2 separate regions of the Homo sapiens genome follow, and region 1 is linked to region 2. The links come from fine-mapping of genetic effects on gene expression. A gene starts in region 2. The other region holds a variant in brackets. All regions are shown on one strand. Distances are between the middles of the regions.

Evidence for each region. PIP is the estimated chance that this variant, and not a neighbour inherited with it, causes the effect.
Region 1: its variant is fine-mapped to the expression of YARS2 in visceral fat (GTEx, PIP above 0.99).

The regions. Positions count from the first base shown.
Region 1 is chr12:32,648,007-32,656,344 of GRCh38, forward strand. It overlaps LOC124902914 (a long non-coding RNA gene), which reads left to right and starts at 2,492. Exons shown (of 2, transcript XR_007063270.1): 1 at 2,492-2,758; 2 at 4,104-4,353. The variant C/T (reference allele first, on the strand shown) is at 4,594.
Region 2 is chr12:32,752,045-32,760,382 of GRCh38, forward strand. YARS2 (tyrosyl-tRNA synthetase 2) reads right to left here and starts at 3,853. Exons shown (of 5, transcript NM_001040436.3): 1 at 3,052-3,853; 2 at 1,874-2,041. The coding sequence starts at 3,830. RefSeq lists enhancers at 2,793-3,432, 2,989-3,148, 3,433-4,072, 3,519-3,618, 3,639-3,868 and 1 more.

The DNA of each region.
Region 1 (8,338 bases), 100 kb before region 2:
GGCCAGGCGTGGTGGCTCATGCCTGTAATCCCAGCACTTTGGGAGTCGGAGGTAGGTGGATCACTTGAGGTCAGGAGTTCAAAAACAGCCCGACCAACATGGTGAAACCCTGTCTCTACTAAAAATACAAAATTAGCTGGGCATGGTTGCGCACGCCTGTAATCCCAACTATTTGGGAGGCTGAGGCAGGAGAATTGTTTGAACCCGGGAGGTGGAGGTTGCAGTGAGCTGAGATAGTGCCATCGCACTCCAGCCTGGGCAACAAGGGTGAAACTCTGTCCCTACCTCCCCCTCTCCAAAAAAAAGAAAGAAAACAGATTTTAAAAAGCTAATAATTTGTCCCTCAGCTCTTGATGTCCTCTCTTCTACCCTTACCCATTTTAAATCCGATGTTCAGTCACTGATCACTCCCTCACATTCACTCACTTCCTTCGCCACGTCTAGCTTTGTCTCGCTTGGCAAAACCAAATCCCCAGTTTACTCAGTTCTGTTTTCATACTTGTACCCATGTGGCTGAACAAAGCAGATTGGTTTCACCTAAAATTTATTACTAGGTCATCACTACTTCCTCCTGAGACCTCCACTGTATCCCCAATCCTCCATCCCAATAGATGACCTTCCTTCCCACTTTAGTAAAATACAAGCAATCAGCAGGGGACAGCCTCCCACAACCATATCTAAGCCACCTATTACCTCTTGAGACCATATACTCTCTCTCCCTGCCTATCCATGTCCTGTCCTAATTGGGTCCCTCACCTGTGCACAGTATCCAATTTCCCATTCGCCTGCCATTCTCCCTTTCTCATGTAATGTCAGATTTCTTCTTGAATCTTATTAGCGAAAACCTGCTATAATTCTTCCCAACGTAAGCCTCTTCACTCCACTTTTCCTCCCATTAGCAGCAACACTCCTTGAAAGAGTTTTCTATACTTACTGTCTCCAATTCCTCTCTTCCCGTTCTTTACTGAACGGATTCCAGTCAGCATTTTGCACCCACCATTTCACTGAAACTGCTCTTATATCAAGGTTACCAATAACTTGTATGCTGCTAAATTCAATAGTCAAGTTCTCAGTCCTCATCTTAGTAGCATTTGACATACTTGGTCATGCTCTCCTTAATTCACTTTCTTCCCTTGGCTTGTAGAACCCCAAACCCTTGGATTTTTTTTCTATTTATGTATTTACTTTAGGGATGGGGAGGTCTCTCCATGCAGACCAGACTGGTCTTGAACTCCTGGACTCAAGCGATCCTCCCATCTCAGCCTCCCAAAGTGCTGGGATTACAGGTGTGAGCCATAGCGCCCAGCCCCAAACCCCTGATGTTCTTCTCTTGAACCCTTTCTTGGTCTTCTTTGCTGTTTTTCACACCTTTCAGGGGTGTCTCAGGCCTAAGTATGTTGTGACTTATCTCCTTTATCTGCACTCATTCCACTAGTATTCACACATACTTTCATACTTTCATGCTGTCAACTCCGAACTTTATTTTATTTATTTTTTGAGACGGAGTCTCGCTCTGTCGTCAGGGTGGAGTACAGTAGTGTGATCTTGGCTCACTGCAACCTCTGTCTCCCAGGTTCAAGCGATTCTCCTGACTCAGCCTCCTGAGTAGCTAGGACCACAGGCACATGCCACCAAGCCCAGCTAATTTTGGTATTTTTAGTAGAAACGGGGTTTCACCATGTTGGCCAGAATGGTCTCGATCTCTTGACCTCGTGATCCACCTGCCTCGGCCTCCTAAAGTGCTGGGATTACAGGTGTGAGCCACCGCTCCTGGCCCCAATTTTATTTTTACTTATTTATTTTTGAGACAGAGCCTTGCTTTGTCGCTGAGGCTAGAATCAGTGGCATGATCACAGCTCACTGCAACCTCTGCTTCCCAGGCTCAAGCAATCCTCCCCGACTCCAGCCTGAGTGACAGAGCAAGACCCTGTGTCAAAAAGAAAAGAAAAAAAAAAAGGAAAAAGAGAAAAAACAGGACTTCAAAATATAATGGTGAAAATCTTAGTCAACCTTGGCACAGTGGATTCTTGTTTTTAAAAAATCAGTCTCAGAGCTAGGCATCATGCCTGTAATTCACCTGGGAGGCTGAGACAGGAAGATCACTTGAACCCAGAGTTCGAGACCAGCTTGGGCAACATAGCAAGACCTGCAGCTTAAAAAAAATAAAATTAGGCTGGGCGTGGTGGCTCACGCCTGTAATCCCAGCACTTTGGGAGGCCGAGGCAGGCGGATCACGAGGTCAGGAGATCAAGACCATCCTGGCTAACACGGTGAAACCCTGTCTCTACTAAAAATACAAAAAAATTAGCTGGGTGTGGTGGCGGGTGCCTGTAGTCCCAGCTACTCAGGAGGCTGAGGCAGGAGAATGGCGTGAACCTGGAAGGTGCAGCTTGCAGTGAGCCGCGATCACGCCACTGCACTCCAGCCTGGGTGACAGAGCGAGACTCCATCTCAATAATAATAATAATAATTTAAAAAATAAAAAATAAAAAAATTTTACAAGAAAAAATATATATATAGAGAGAGAGAGACATACAGTCTCAGCCCACTACCACCACCATTATCACAGCACCTGGACTGTGAGGAGATTAGAGGCAGCTGATGACTGTCCCAGAAGGAGCCGAAAGTGCTGAAGGACAGACATCCTGAGGAAATGGGGCTGGCAGAGTGGACCTGGCAAATGGTTTGGATAATGAGCGCCTAGGCTACCATCACTTTCTTACAGAGGAAGTGATTCATGCACTGTTTTGTCCTGCAGGTAAGTAAAAACAGAAAACCAGTTTGCTTACTCTCTTAGTAAAGGAAATGCTCTGCTTTTATAGAATAAGATTAGGGCCTCATAGCCCACTGTGGCATTTTCACAAAAATTGCTATTTTTAGATGATCACTTAAATATGTCATTATCATACACCAAACAAAAATAATTACGGTGCAAAAAATTAACTTAAAAAATTGTTTCCACATAGAATCATGTTATGTTTAAAAGTGGGAAAAATGTATGTCATCTGAAAGATCATCTTGTGGTTTTTTTTACTATCTGCTGAATTTGTGTGTATGTCTATGTATGTGCTTGAAGACTGGAGAACAGGAAGGCACAGAATGAATACAGGGTAAATGAACCAAAGGATCCAGGCCCACAGTTATAAAAAAAATAGGAGGAAGAACTCTCAATAAAAAAGAATTATTTGCCACTTTGAGAGGACAAGGTGGGAGAATCACTTGAGGCCAGGAGTTAGAGACCAGACTGGGCAAGATAGTGAGGACCCTCCTATCTTTAAAAAAAGTAGTAATAATTAGGTGGGCATGGTGGCATGAGCCTGTAGTCCCAGCTACTGAGAAGGCTGAGGCAGGAGGATCGCTTGAGCCCAGGGGTTTGAGGTCGCAGTGAGCTATGATTGCACCATTGTATTCCAGCCTGGGTGACAGAGTGAAACCCTGTCTCAAAAAAAAAAAAAAGAAAGAAAGAAAGAAAGAAAGAAATGAAAAATTATTTGCTAAAAAAAGTCATGATGCTTTCGTGAGTATACCTTTTTGCAGAGTTTTGACTTTTGAACCATCTCAGTGTTTTATAAACAGACACACACACACACACACACCCCTAATGGTGAACACTCCCCTCCCCCATGGAGTACAAATATAAACAAGTGAACATATCCATATATCAAATGGTACCAAATGAAAAACATAACCACACTGAAGAGAAAAAAGAACTAACTCAAACTTTTGCATACAGTATGTGGACTCAGAGTGCAAACAAATATTGAACTCTAGATCCCTGGCTTGTTTTTCCCAGTGGTAGAGCTTAGTAGTTCTAACATGTGTTTATTTGTTTTGCTGAGTTCTAGAACTCAGTGAATGTGATAGTTCATATTGAGTGTCAACTTGATTGGATTGAAGGATGCAAAGTATTGTTCCTGGGTGTGTCCGTGAGGGTGCTGCGAAAGGAGAGTAACATTTGAGTCGGTGGACTGGGAGAGGCAGACCCACCCTCAATCTGGGTGGGCACTGCCTAATCAGCTGCCAGCGCAGCTAGAATAAACCAGGCAGAAGATGGAAGAGCAGACTTGCTGAGTCTTCTGGCCTTTGTCTTTCTCCCGTGCTAGATGCGTCCTGCCCTTGAACAACAGACTCCAAGTTTTTCAGCTTTTGGACTCTTGGACTACACCATTGGTTTGCCAGGGGTTCTCAGGCCTTTGGCCACAGACTGAAGGCTGCGCTGTCGGCTCCCCTACTTCTGAGGTTTTGGGACTCAGACTGGCTTCCTTACCCCTCAGCTTGCAGACGGCCTATTGTGGGACCTCACCTTGTGATCGTGTGCATCAATACTCCTTAATAAACTCCCCTTCATATATACATCTATCCTATTAGCTCTGTCCCTCTAGAGAACCCTGACTAATCCAGTAAATAAATATGCTGAGGATAATGGGAGCCAAGTTTCCTACTGTCAGAGAAAGCAGATATAGATGTGGAAGGGGGGACATAATAAATCCTATGTTATTGGAATGGAAAATAGGTATTAATGGTTTAGCTAAGTATAAATATAGATATAGTACATATAATACCTATGTGGGGGGTTATATAAATGTACATATA[C/T]ACATATTTTCTAGCTGTCTGCTGTGAGGGTCTAGAAGTAATACCCCAATTTTGTTTTTGTATTTTGTTTTCTAAACACCATTTTCCACTAAAAAGAACCAGCATTCCTTGAAGAAATGGTTGATTCAAGGGCTTGGGCAGGAAAAATTCACAATAAGCCTGGAATATTATATTGTACCAGAAAGTAAGAAAGGGCCCAAAGAATGATGGGGACATGTCAGAAGAACTAGGAGGCAGCTTGAAGGGTCTCCCACTGGCAAAATCTGGGACAGTTAAACATAAAAATTAACAAAAAAAATTTAAAATGATGGCAATGGATTATAAAATCCATTGAATAAAGGAGGAACACAGGAATCCAAACATATGAAAGAATGAATAAATAAATGATAAGAAAAAGTGCTTATAGTAGGATGTCAACAAGTAAGTGTAGAAGAAATGATAAAATGAAAACATTAGCAATTGACAAAACAAAGGAATCATTCAGAATCCTCAGTGGACATTGATGGGTAAAAAATTCTTGACCAGGATAACTACATAATCTCAAAATATGTCTCCATAAAATTGCTTTTTTGTTTTGTTTTGAGATGGAGTCTTGCTCTGTCCCCAGGCTGGAGTGCAGTGGCAGGATCTCAGCTCACTGCCACCTCCACCTCCGGAGTTCAAGCAATTCTTGTGCCTCAGCCTCCCAAGTAGTTGGGACTACAGGCGTGAGCCACCACGTCCAGCTAATTTTTGTGTTTTTAGTAGGGACATGGTTTCACCATCTTGGCCAGATTGTTCTGGAACTCCTGGCCTCAAGTGATCCGCCCACCTCAGCCTCCCAAAGTGCTGGGATTACATGCTGAGCCACCGCGCCTGGCCCATAAAATTCTTATTAATTACAAAAATAAAAATAGTAACTTTGCAGTAGAAAAACTTGGTGGACAGCATCTTAACCAAGTTAACATTACCAGTGAGGACAAACTGGTCTCATGTATCTCTTGATATGAAGCACTGAGAGGACACATCACATCTGTTGTTTTCCTGCTAAAAGTGAAATCTATCTGAGTATTTGGGGTTACATGACAAACTAAATACATTTTTAAAAGTGTAATCTAATCATGAGGAAATAACAGACAAACCCAAACTCAGGAACATTCTATAGAATACCTGGCCTATATTTGGCAGGGCACGGTGGCTTACACCTGTAATCCCAGTACTTCGGAAGGCCGAGGCAGGCGGATCAGGAGGTCAGGAGATCAAGATTATCCTGGCTAACACGGTGAAACCCTGTTTCTACTAAAAATACAAAAAATTAGCCGGGCTTGGTGGCGGGCGCCTGTAGTCCCAGCTACTCGGGAAGCTGAGGCAGAATGACATGAACCTGGGAGGCAGAGCTGGCAATGAGCCAAGATTGCACCACTGCACTCCAGCCTGGGCGACAGAGCGAGACTCTGTCTCAAAAAAAAAAAAAAAAAAAATTACCTGGCCTGTATTCTTCAAAAATGTTAAATTCAGCTGGGCGCAGTGGCTCACGCCTGTAATCCCAGCACTTTGAGAGGCCAAGACGGGTGGATCACAAGGTCAGGAGTTCGAGACCAGCCTGGCCAATATGGTGAAAGCCCATCTCCTCTAAAAATACAAAAATTAGCTGGGCTTGGTGGCGGGCACCTGTAGTCCCAACTACTCGGGAGCTGAGGCATGAAAATCACTTGGGAAGCGGAGGTTGCAGTGAGCCAAGATCATGCCATTGCACTCCAGCCTGGGTGACAGAGTGAGACTCCGTCTCAAAAAAAAAAAAAAAGTTAAGCTCATGAAAGACAAAGACAGACTAAAGAACTGTTCCAGGTTAAAGGATAGAAACACATGATAAGTAAATGCAATGTGCGCTGGACTTAGGCCACAATTTATTCTTTCTTTTTTTTGGCTATAAAGGATATTATTGAGATAACCGTTAAATGAATAACATCTGTAGATTAGATCATCATACTGTAGCTGCTAATTTTTCTGTTTTGACCATTGCACTGTGGTTATGTAAGAAAATATCCATGTCCTTGAAAATATACACTGAAGTATTTGAGGAAAAAGACACATCGTGTCTGTAACTTATACTCAAATGGTTCAGAGATGAGAGAGAGGGAGAAAGAATGATAGAGCAGAAGCAATGTGATAAAAATGTTAAAAGAATCTAGGTGAAGGGTAAACTAGAGTTCTTTTAAAATACTTATGACTTTTCTGTAAGTCTGAATATATTTCAAATAAATTGAAGTTTTGGAAGAAATGTAAATTAAAATGAGATATTACTACACACCTGTTAGAATGGTCAACATCGAGACACTGACCACAAATGCTGACAAGGATGTGGAGCAACTGGAACTCTCGCTCATGGTAGGTGGGAAGGCAAAAGGGTACAGCCACTTTATAGTTTGACAGTTTTTCTTGCAAAACTAAACTTATACGAACCAGCAGCACACTCCTTGGTATTTACCTAAATGAGTTGAAAACTTATGTCCACACACAAACCTGCTACAGAGCAGCTTTATTCACAATTGCCAACACTTGGAAACAACCAAGACGTCCTTCAGTAGGTGAACAGATCGACAAATGTGACAATGGAGTATTATGCAGCACTAAAAAGAAATTAGCTATCAGGCTATGAAAAGACATAGAGGGACCTTAAGGGCATTCACCAAATGAAAGAAGTCAACTAAAAAGGCTACATATTGGCTGGGTGCAGTGGCTCTTATGCCTGTAATCCAAGCACTTTCGGAGGCAGAGGCAGGCAGATCACTTGAGGCCAGGAGTTCGAGACCAACCTGGCCAACATGGTGAAACCCCATCTCTACTACAAACACAAAAATTAGCTGGGTGTGGTGACACGTGCCTGTAGTCCCAGCTACTTGGGAGGCTGAGGCATGAGAATCGCCTGAACTCAGGAGGTGGAGGTTGCATTGAGCCAAGATCGTGCCATTGCACTCCAGCCTGGGGACACAGCAAGACTCCATCTCAAAAAGAAAAAAATATATATATATGGAGACATATTTTGAGATTATGTAGATATCCTAGTCAAGAATTTTTTACCCATCAATGTCCATTGATGATTCTGAATGATTCCTTTGTTTTGTCAATTGCTGATGTTTTCATTTCATCATTTCTTCTACACTTATTTGTTGGCATCCTACTATAAGCATTTTTTCTTATCATTTATTTATTTATTCATTCATTCATTCATTCATTCATTCATATGTTTGGATTCCTGTGTTCCTATTTTATTCAATGGATTGTATAATCCGTTGCCATTATTTTAAATTTTATGTTAATTTTTATGTTTAACTGTCCCAGATTTTGCCAGTGGGAGACCCTTCGAGCTGCCTCCTGGTTCTTCTGACATGTCACTTGAGCCTAAGAGTTTGAGACCAGTCTGAGCAACATAGTGATACCCCATCTCTAAAAACAAAAACAAAACTACATATCATATGATTCCAACTATGTATATGACATTCTGAAAAAGGTAAAACTTTGACACATTAAAAAGATCAGTGGTGGCTCACGCTTGTAATTCCAGCACATTGGGAGGCCAAGGTGGGCAGATCACTTGAACCCAGGAGTTTGAGACCAGTCTGGGCAACATAGTGAGATCCTGTCTCTACAAAAGATACAAAATTAGCCAGGCATGGTGGCAGGTAGTCCTAGCTACTCAGGATGCTGAGGTACGGGAATCACTTGAACCCTGGAGGCGGAGGTTTCAGTGAGAGGAGATCACACC
Region 2 (8,338 bases):
CACTGTATAGCCTAAGTGTGTAGTAGGCTATGCTATCTATGTTTGTGCAGGGACACTCTACGATATTTGCAATGATGAAATCACCTAACAACACACTTCCCAGAATGTATCCCTATTGTTAAGTGATATATGACTATAATATCATCCTATATGTATTCTCTTTTTCTTTGGTGAAATATATATAACACACAGAAAAAAGTACATTATTCACAAAGATATAGCTTAATGAATCATAAAACATCTATGTAACCATCACCATGGTCAAGAAATACAGTATTGGGCCGGGCGCAGTGGCTCACGTCTGTAATCAAATAGTGAGTTTGGCAGAGTTGCTAGATTTAAAGGTAATATATATAAAGTAATTGTATTTCTATACACCAGAACCAGATAGAAAATGCAATTTTTGAAAAGATTATCTAAATTCTCTAGGCCGGGTGCGGTAGCTCAAGCCTGTAATCCCAGCACTTTGGGAGGCTGAGGAAGGTGGATCACTTGAGGTCAGGAGTTCGAGACCAGCCTGGCCAACATGGCGAAACCCTGCCTCTACAAAAATACAAAAATTAGCTGGGCATGGTGGCGCATGCCTGTAGTCCTAGCTACTCAGGAGAATCACTTGAACCCAGGAGGCGGAGGTTGCAATGAGCCAAGATCATGCCACTACACTCTAGCCTGGGCAACAAAGTGAGACACTGCCTCAAAAAAAAAAAAAAAAAAAAAAAAAGATTATCAATTCTCAATACATCAAAACCCCAGGACTATATCGTCAAACATTCTAGGACTAAATCTAAAGAGAAAAAAACACAATTACCAAAATTTTGTAATAAGGCATGATAATCTTCCACTCTGTTCTTCAAAAACATCTTGGCCAATCTTAGCCCTTTTTATTTCTATGTCAGTGTTACAATGAGCTTGTCAAGTTCCACAAAAAGCCGGTTTAGATATGGTTGGCACTGTACTAAATGTAGATCAAATCCAGAACTGGTATCTTGGCCGGGTGCGGGGGCTCATGCTGTAATCCCAGCACTTTGGGAGTCTGAGGCAGGTTTATCGCTTGAGTCCAGGAGTCTGAGACCAGCCTGGGGAACAAGGTGAAACTCCACCATTACTAAAAAAAAAATACAAAATTAGCTGGGCATGGTGGTGTGCACCTGAGCCTGGGAATTTCAGGCTACAGTGAGCCAAGACTGCGTCACTACACTCTAGCCTGGGCAATGGGAGTGAGATTCTGTTTCAAAAAATACAAAAAAGAACTGATATTATTTTTGTACTATGAATATGGTCTAACTCTCCATTTATGTAGGTCTTTATTTTGCTCAATAGCATCTTTTAATATTTTGCAGGAAAGTCATATACCTTTTAAGTCTTAAAGAATTATTCCTAGATTACTTTGATGTTACAGAGCATCAAAATATTTTTTTCACTTTTTGTTGCAGGTATATTTGTTTCTCATTAATTCATATTCTTCCAAGAGTTTAAGGCAATTTGATTTAAGGAGAAATCATTTCTTAAGAGGATCTTTAAAGTCATATTTGTGAGAGAAGAGAGACAAAGGAAAAATAAGGGTAGTCAAGGTTAAGTTGAAAGGAGTGAAAAAACTAGAATATGCAGGTGATAAAATCCTAAGAACTTGCTAGATACAGATCAAAAAGTTGGCTCTACATTTTCTAGCCACCCACTGTTTTTCTGCTTTAACCAACAAAGTGTTTAACTTTAGAACACAGTAAAAATTAGTCTTCTATGATGTAATGGTTTATGTACAGACAGAAACTACGTTAAAAACAAAAAAACTATAAAATGTACATAGATTCAATGGCTAAAATTACATCATGAGTTTATGGTGTCAGTTTTTCTCAGCCCATTATTCAGAACTCACCTTTCCACTGAATCGTCCGGTTGCCTGACAAAGAATTGATACAATTCAAATGGAGATGTCTTATCTCTGTTTAGCCAAACAGCGTTGCCAGCAGACTTTCCCAGCTTTGCTCCAGTTGTACTTGTAATTAGAGGAACGGTGATTCCAAATACATCTTCTCCAGTCAACCTACGCATAAAGAACAATTTCATTATGTGCCTCAAGCACAAGTGGTGGTAGGTTCTACTGTTCACCTTCCAGATTTCTTTCTGGTTACTTGCTCCAGGAAAACTTCCTTGACCTCCTAAATCTGAATTCTTGTTCCTCTTATGTATTGTTACAGTACTTACTCTATTCATTCTGAACCTCATGAGTGGTTCCAGGCAGGTTCTAGGCAGGCCAAGGGGAAGTGCTACATAACAATGGACTAGAGATTTTGAAAGGCTGAGTGGGAAGGAGAAAACTGGGTGAAGGGGTGTCAGGAAGAGACACTAAAGGAAATCTTCTAAACGCCTTTTAAACATGTGCTTTGCTCTGTTGCACATGAGCTAGCCCTATCCTTCACCTCTCTCAAGAAAATGCTATTAGACCCGCATTACTTGTCAATTATTTGGAGTTGAAAAAACTTTTTGAGATACCAACCAAGGACTAACACTAGTTTCATGGAGGGTGCAGAGCTAAAGCAGAGGCTAGCTACTCAAGGAGGCCCAGTCACGTTCTGGTATAAACACACAAAAGCAGTTTCTCTAATTAGAGAGGACGACTTAGGCGAAGCAAAACAGACCGACCAAATCTTCACTAGTGGTCTGTTTCCCTTTTTTTTTTTTTTTTTTTTGAGACGGAGTCTCCCTCTGTTGCCCCAGGCTGGAGTGCAGTGGCGCGATCTCGGCTCACTGAAACCTTCGCCTCCCGGGTTCAAGAGATTCTCCTGCCTCAGCCTCCCGAATAGCTGGGATTACAGGCGTGCATCACCACGCCCAGCTAATTTTTAGAATACACCGTTTACTCTTAATACCCTTAATTCAGCCCTTTAATTCTTATTAGCCAGTGTTATTAACGCCATTATAGAGCCTTAATGGGGATAAAACCAACAAGAGCTGGAACGAAGGGCAGCAACTACAATCCTAAGAGTGAATCACAGGCTACTAGTGTGTAAATTATTTGGTCCCAGGATTTCCCCAAGGTTTAAAGGCACTTACTTGTTGATGAACTCATATCCGGACATGATGTTGCCTAGTTGATCAGATCCGCCCAGCTGGACCCTGCATCCATAACGCTGGAAGAGGTAATAGAAGTCATAGGCCTGGAGCACCTGGTAAAAGAACTCGGCCAAGCTCATGCCCTCGGGGCTCTTGAGCCGCAGCTGCACGCTCTGCCGGCTCAGCAGCGTCCCCATGCGGAAGTGACCCCCCACTGCCGCCAGGAAGTCCACCAGGTGCTGCTTCTGGTACCAGGCCGAGTTGTCCAGCACAGTGAAGCTGCCCCAGGAGCGCCCATCAGTGAAAAGCTGCTGGTGATTAGCCGCCAGGGCCTCAAGCCCTAGGCGCAGAGCTCGCGCGTTGGCTCGCACGCGCTCTGTCTCCAGCGCCTCGCGTTCCTTGGTACGGCCGCTCGGGTCTCCCAGGCGCGCCGTGGCGCCTCCCACCAGCGCGATCACGTTGTGGCCCGCTCGCTGCAAATGAAACAGGCCCAGCAGCGCAAGTAGATGACCCACATGAAGCGAGTCTGCCGTGGGGTCGAAGCCACAGTAAATGGTTTGGGGAAAACTCGCCGTGCCACGGTCGAAGAGCTCTGGGAGCTCTATTTTCGTCCCCGTCTCCGGGAAGAAGTCCTTGAACAGACCTCGAGCCTTCTGCGCTGCCAGTAACCCCTGAGCGCCCGAGTGGGCCTTACGCAGCCCCAAGGGCAACAATACTGAGAGATTTAGGGTACCAGACCACCGGCCCCAGGAAAAGGACCGCAAGATGGGCGCCGCCATCTTGGTAGCGGCACGAAGGGAATGCTGGGATTGCAGAGGCTCCCACCACACCCACCTACTTACAGCTCCTAGGGAAGGTGCTTCAGTGTTTTTCTGCGCATGCCCGAGACGGTTACGTAGTTACGGAGCTTGCGCTCTCAGCAGTTGAGTCCCGACTCCAAGTGGCGATTCCGCCTCAGAGCCGTCGCCTTACGTTCCCTTAAACTTAATTTTTCCATCAGCAGTGTGGATCTGCTTATGATAGTTCCTACCTCATAAGGCTGTTGTGAGCCTTAAAAATTAAAGCATTTGGCACATAACGCTTCACAAATGCTAACTTGTATTTACATTTTCACGTAAAAAGATTGTGATGCGCAAGTTCTTTGAAGTCTTGGTTCCATGCAAAAAGCTGTTCACAGAGGTTGAGAAAGGTTAGGAATTGGTTTAAGTTCGCGGAGAGATAGGGAGTTGCTGCTGAGACGCAAGCAATTTCATAGTACCGATTCCCTAATTGCACCTCGTCCCCAGTATTCATCGGCTCTTCCAGGAGGTGGCAGTCTTGTCCAAGGTATAGCAAGAAAAACTCAGTGCAATAAAGTACATGCATCAAGTCCTGTGGTTTATTTATTTTAAATACAGTTAACTAGGTTGGGACACAGCTTAGCATGAGTGGATTCAAGTTAGTAATCACATCGTGCAGCGTGACAGGTGCTCTGAATACTGACCAGGGATGAGGTTCTTATTGGCAGCTGGCTGGCAGGTGATCTAGCTTCAAAATCCCATGTTAGAGCCTGATTTCTAGGACCGCTTTCAAAATCGTCTTAGGTAGAATTCCCTGGACTCTGAGTTGGGGGGGAGACTGGTTTGCAGGAGGGTAATTGGAGTGTGCTCTTAAGAACAACACCTATAATGGAGTGAGGGAGGCCGGGTTGGGCGGAGGGAGAAAGAAGTTGAACTGTGAACAATTTGTAATAGAGGCCTCAGGCAATCCAGTAAGGGCTCTGGAGCCGGGATTTCCTTTCAGAGTCATCCTGAATTGAGGCCAGGGGGCAGACCTTTAGACCCTCTTACTGACTGCTCATTAAATGTGGGATGTTTCTGGGGAGGAAGCAAAACGCTGGGTTAAGGCTTTTGGAGAGTGAGATGTGCAGGAAGGGACTCAGCTGTGAGCAATAAGCAACCAACACTCCCAGCAGCTGGGGGATTGAGTGCCTTGGTCCTGTGACTGGGATCTGGGCCATGTTCCAAATCATTCCCTACAGGACTTTTCCATTTTTTAACGTTATAAAGTTATCTAACAAAATGAAAACTTATTTTAATAATTAGTTTCTTTGCATGTATAATTATCAGTGAATTAGTTTCTCATTGCCAAATAGTAACTTCAATAGGATTTTGAGATACTCATTCAATAGGCTATTAAACATACTCCCAACTGCTTAAGAAAATAGTGTGTTCAAAATATCTTAAAATTTGCAATCATAACCTGTTGATCTTCAGTGTTTTTTTTTTTTTTAAGTGTCACTCTGTTGTCCACACTGGAGTGCCGTGGCAGGATCATGGTTCACTGCAGCCTTGAACTCCTAGGCTCCAGCGATCTTCCTGCCTCAGCCTCCCAAGTAGCTGGAGCTACAGGTGTGGACTACCATGCCTGGCTAATTTTTATTTTTTGTTTTTGTAGAGACGGGGGTCTCACTGTATTGCCCAGGGTGGTCCTAAACTCCTGGCCTCAAGCAAGCTTCCCACCTCTGCCTCCCAAAGTGTTGGGATTACAGGCATGAGCTACTTCGCAAGGCCAATCTGCAGTCATATGGTCCACCACTTTGATCAGGGACAGATTTCAGTAGGTATGGCAGGAAATTCTCCTGAGCACACGTAAGGAAACTCACATCTGGGCCACTTGTCACTTGAAAGCCAAAAACCCAAGAGAAGAGCTGTAGTGAAAGTAAAGTTAGCTTTATTCAAGAGACCAGCAACCCTGGGGGATGCAGTGAGCTAGCGTTCAAAGACCACCTCTGGTTTTTAAGGGCAATTAAGAGAAAGGATGATAAAAAGATTTTTGTGAAACGTGTGCAGTCTCAGGTCGGCAGTAAATCATTGCTTTCTTGGTCAATATTTTGTGGCTTTCTGCAGGTACCATCAGCCTATTCTTATTAGGTCGGTCAGCCCATTCACAGAGAGGCTGATCTAGGTATTTTCTTTTATCTCTGTTCAAGATCCTGTTTTTCTGAGGCTGATTTTAGTGAATGATCTACAAAATCAAGCAAAGTAATAATTGTATTCAAGTAAGCAAGCTTTCTTCTAACATGGAATCAGTACTGTCACACACACAGCAAATGGTGCTTTCTATTTAGTACCTTAATACATAGGGCACACATGTGTTTCTGGTGACACACAACTCTCTGGCTTTTACAGGTGTGTTAGTAATTTGAAAATCCTACTTGTTACAACAGTATGCCAGGGTTACTTGATGTCAGGGTTACTTGATGACCTGTGCTTAATGGAGAAGAATTTTGTGGATAATGAGAAATAGAAAATTTCTACCTGGGATTACAATTTATTATAAAGTCTTTTAAAAATAGATTTGAGCTCTGCTTTGTCTCTTAAGTTTAGTTGCATCTCATGAAGAGGCAGCAAAGTCTGATATAGAAGGTGGTGTCGGGCCGGGTGCGGTGGCTCACGCCTGTAATCCCAGCACTTTGGGAGGCTGAGGTGAGCGGATCACTTGAGGTTGGGAGTTTGAGACCAGCCTGACCAACATGGAGAAACCCCATCTCTAATAAAAATACAAAATTAGCCGGGCATGGTGGCGCATGCCTGTAATCCCAGCTACTTGGGAGGCTGAGGCAGGAGCATTGCTTGCACCCACGAGGTGGAGGTTGCAGTGAGCCGAGATCATGCCATTGCACTCCAGCCTGGGCAACGAAAGCCAAACTCCGTCTCAAAAAAAAAAAAAAAAAAAGAAGGTGGTGTCACAGGAGGTGCTAGATGAGACTTGACAGTAGCTTAATGACAGTAACAAGCAACAAGTTTGGAAAATACAGTGAGATCAATTACTCTCTTTTTATAATTTGTGTTGGTATTATAGGGGAAATTGGGCTTTGTCCCAAAGACAGGAGCAATAAAGAAGATGGGACTTTCAAACCTTTGGAATTATATCCGTGGCTAAAATTTTATGGGATTGCACCCATGGTTTGCATTTGGGTTACAAAAAAGTGACCAAGTTAATTCTTGCTGTTTTTATTGGCTTAAAAAGTGAGTGAACAAGGGTTAAAAAGTATTTTTAAAAATATGATTTATCTCAACTGTAATAACTTGAGGTTAACTGGCCTTGAATTAGAGGCACATGTGTTTTACAGTTACCTTTTCCTGCAACAAAATGCCACATAAATGTTCTCTTTGAAGGGATCCCTGTTTTAAATGGCTTGGTTTTCAAAATGTAAACAAATATAAATATAATAGAATTCAAAAGACACAGAGTAAACAGTAATGGTATTTTAACTGATCTCTACTTAACTTTGAAAATTTCTCTATCTCTAGCATTGTATTAAATATATATTCAGATTACAGCAGAGATCTGATTAGGGCTGAAATATGAGCTGCTCGAACATCACAGCAAAATGACAGCAGAAAGAAGTCTGAGGAATTCTGATCATTATAATCACTATAAAATATAATTCTTATTTGTGTTTTCTGTTTTTTTTTCCTTGGAGAAGATTATTGGTGACATCAGATGCAAAAGGGAGTGGATAGGAACAAGAAATAGAAATTGTAAACCTATAATTGTAAACCTACGTAACCATGCCCGGTTACGGCCGGGCATGGTGGCTCACGCTTGTAATCCCAGCACTTTGGGAGGCTGAGGCGGGCAGATCACCTGAGGTCAGGAGTTTGAGACCAGCCTGACAAACATGGTGAAACTCCCGTCTCAACCAAAAATACAAAAATTAGCCAGACGTGGTGGCGGGCGTCTGTAATCCCAGCTACTCAGGAGGCTGAGGCAGGAGAATCACTTAAACCTGGGAGGCGGAGGTTGCAGTGAGCCGACATAGCACCACTGCACTCCAGCCTGGGCAACAGAGTGAGACAACATCTCAAAAAAAAAAAAAAGAAAGAAAAGAAAAAGAAATTGTAGGTTATTGCAGAAAGGCCATGGCTTTTCTTCCAGTTGAAGTATTTCCATGGCTTTTCTTCCAGTTGAAGTATTTCCATGACATTCCTATCTCCTATTACTTGGGAAGAATCATTTCTAAAGATTGATTTCATGTCTTTGTTGTCTTTGTATAATAATTTATAACTCAATCTGCCTCATAATTACATCTTCTCACACATGACTTTCATGTTGCTGTTTTTCTTGAAACCTACATCTAAAGTCCTAAAGATCCTCCCACTCTGCCCATCCTTACCTGCAAGGCAGTTGCTCCCCTTTCATTCCAAACTAATTTCTTTCAGGAAGCTCCTCTGCATTAGGTAGGGCGAAGGAAGGATGCTTTTACTGTCCAGGTTCATCATGCCCCTAAAATGTATTAAAA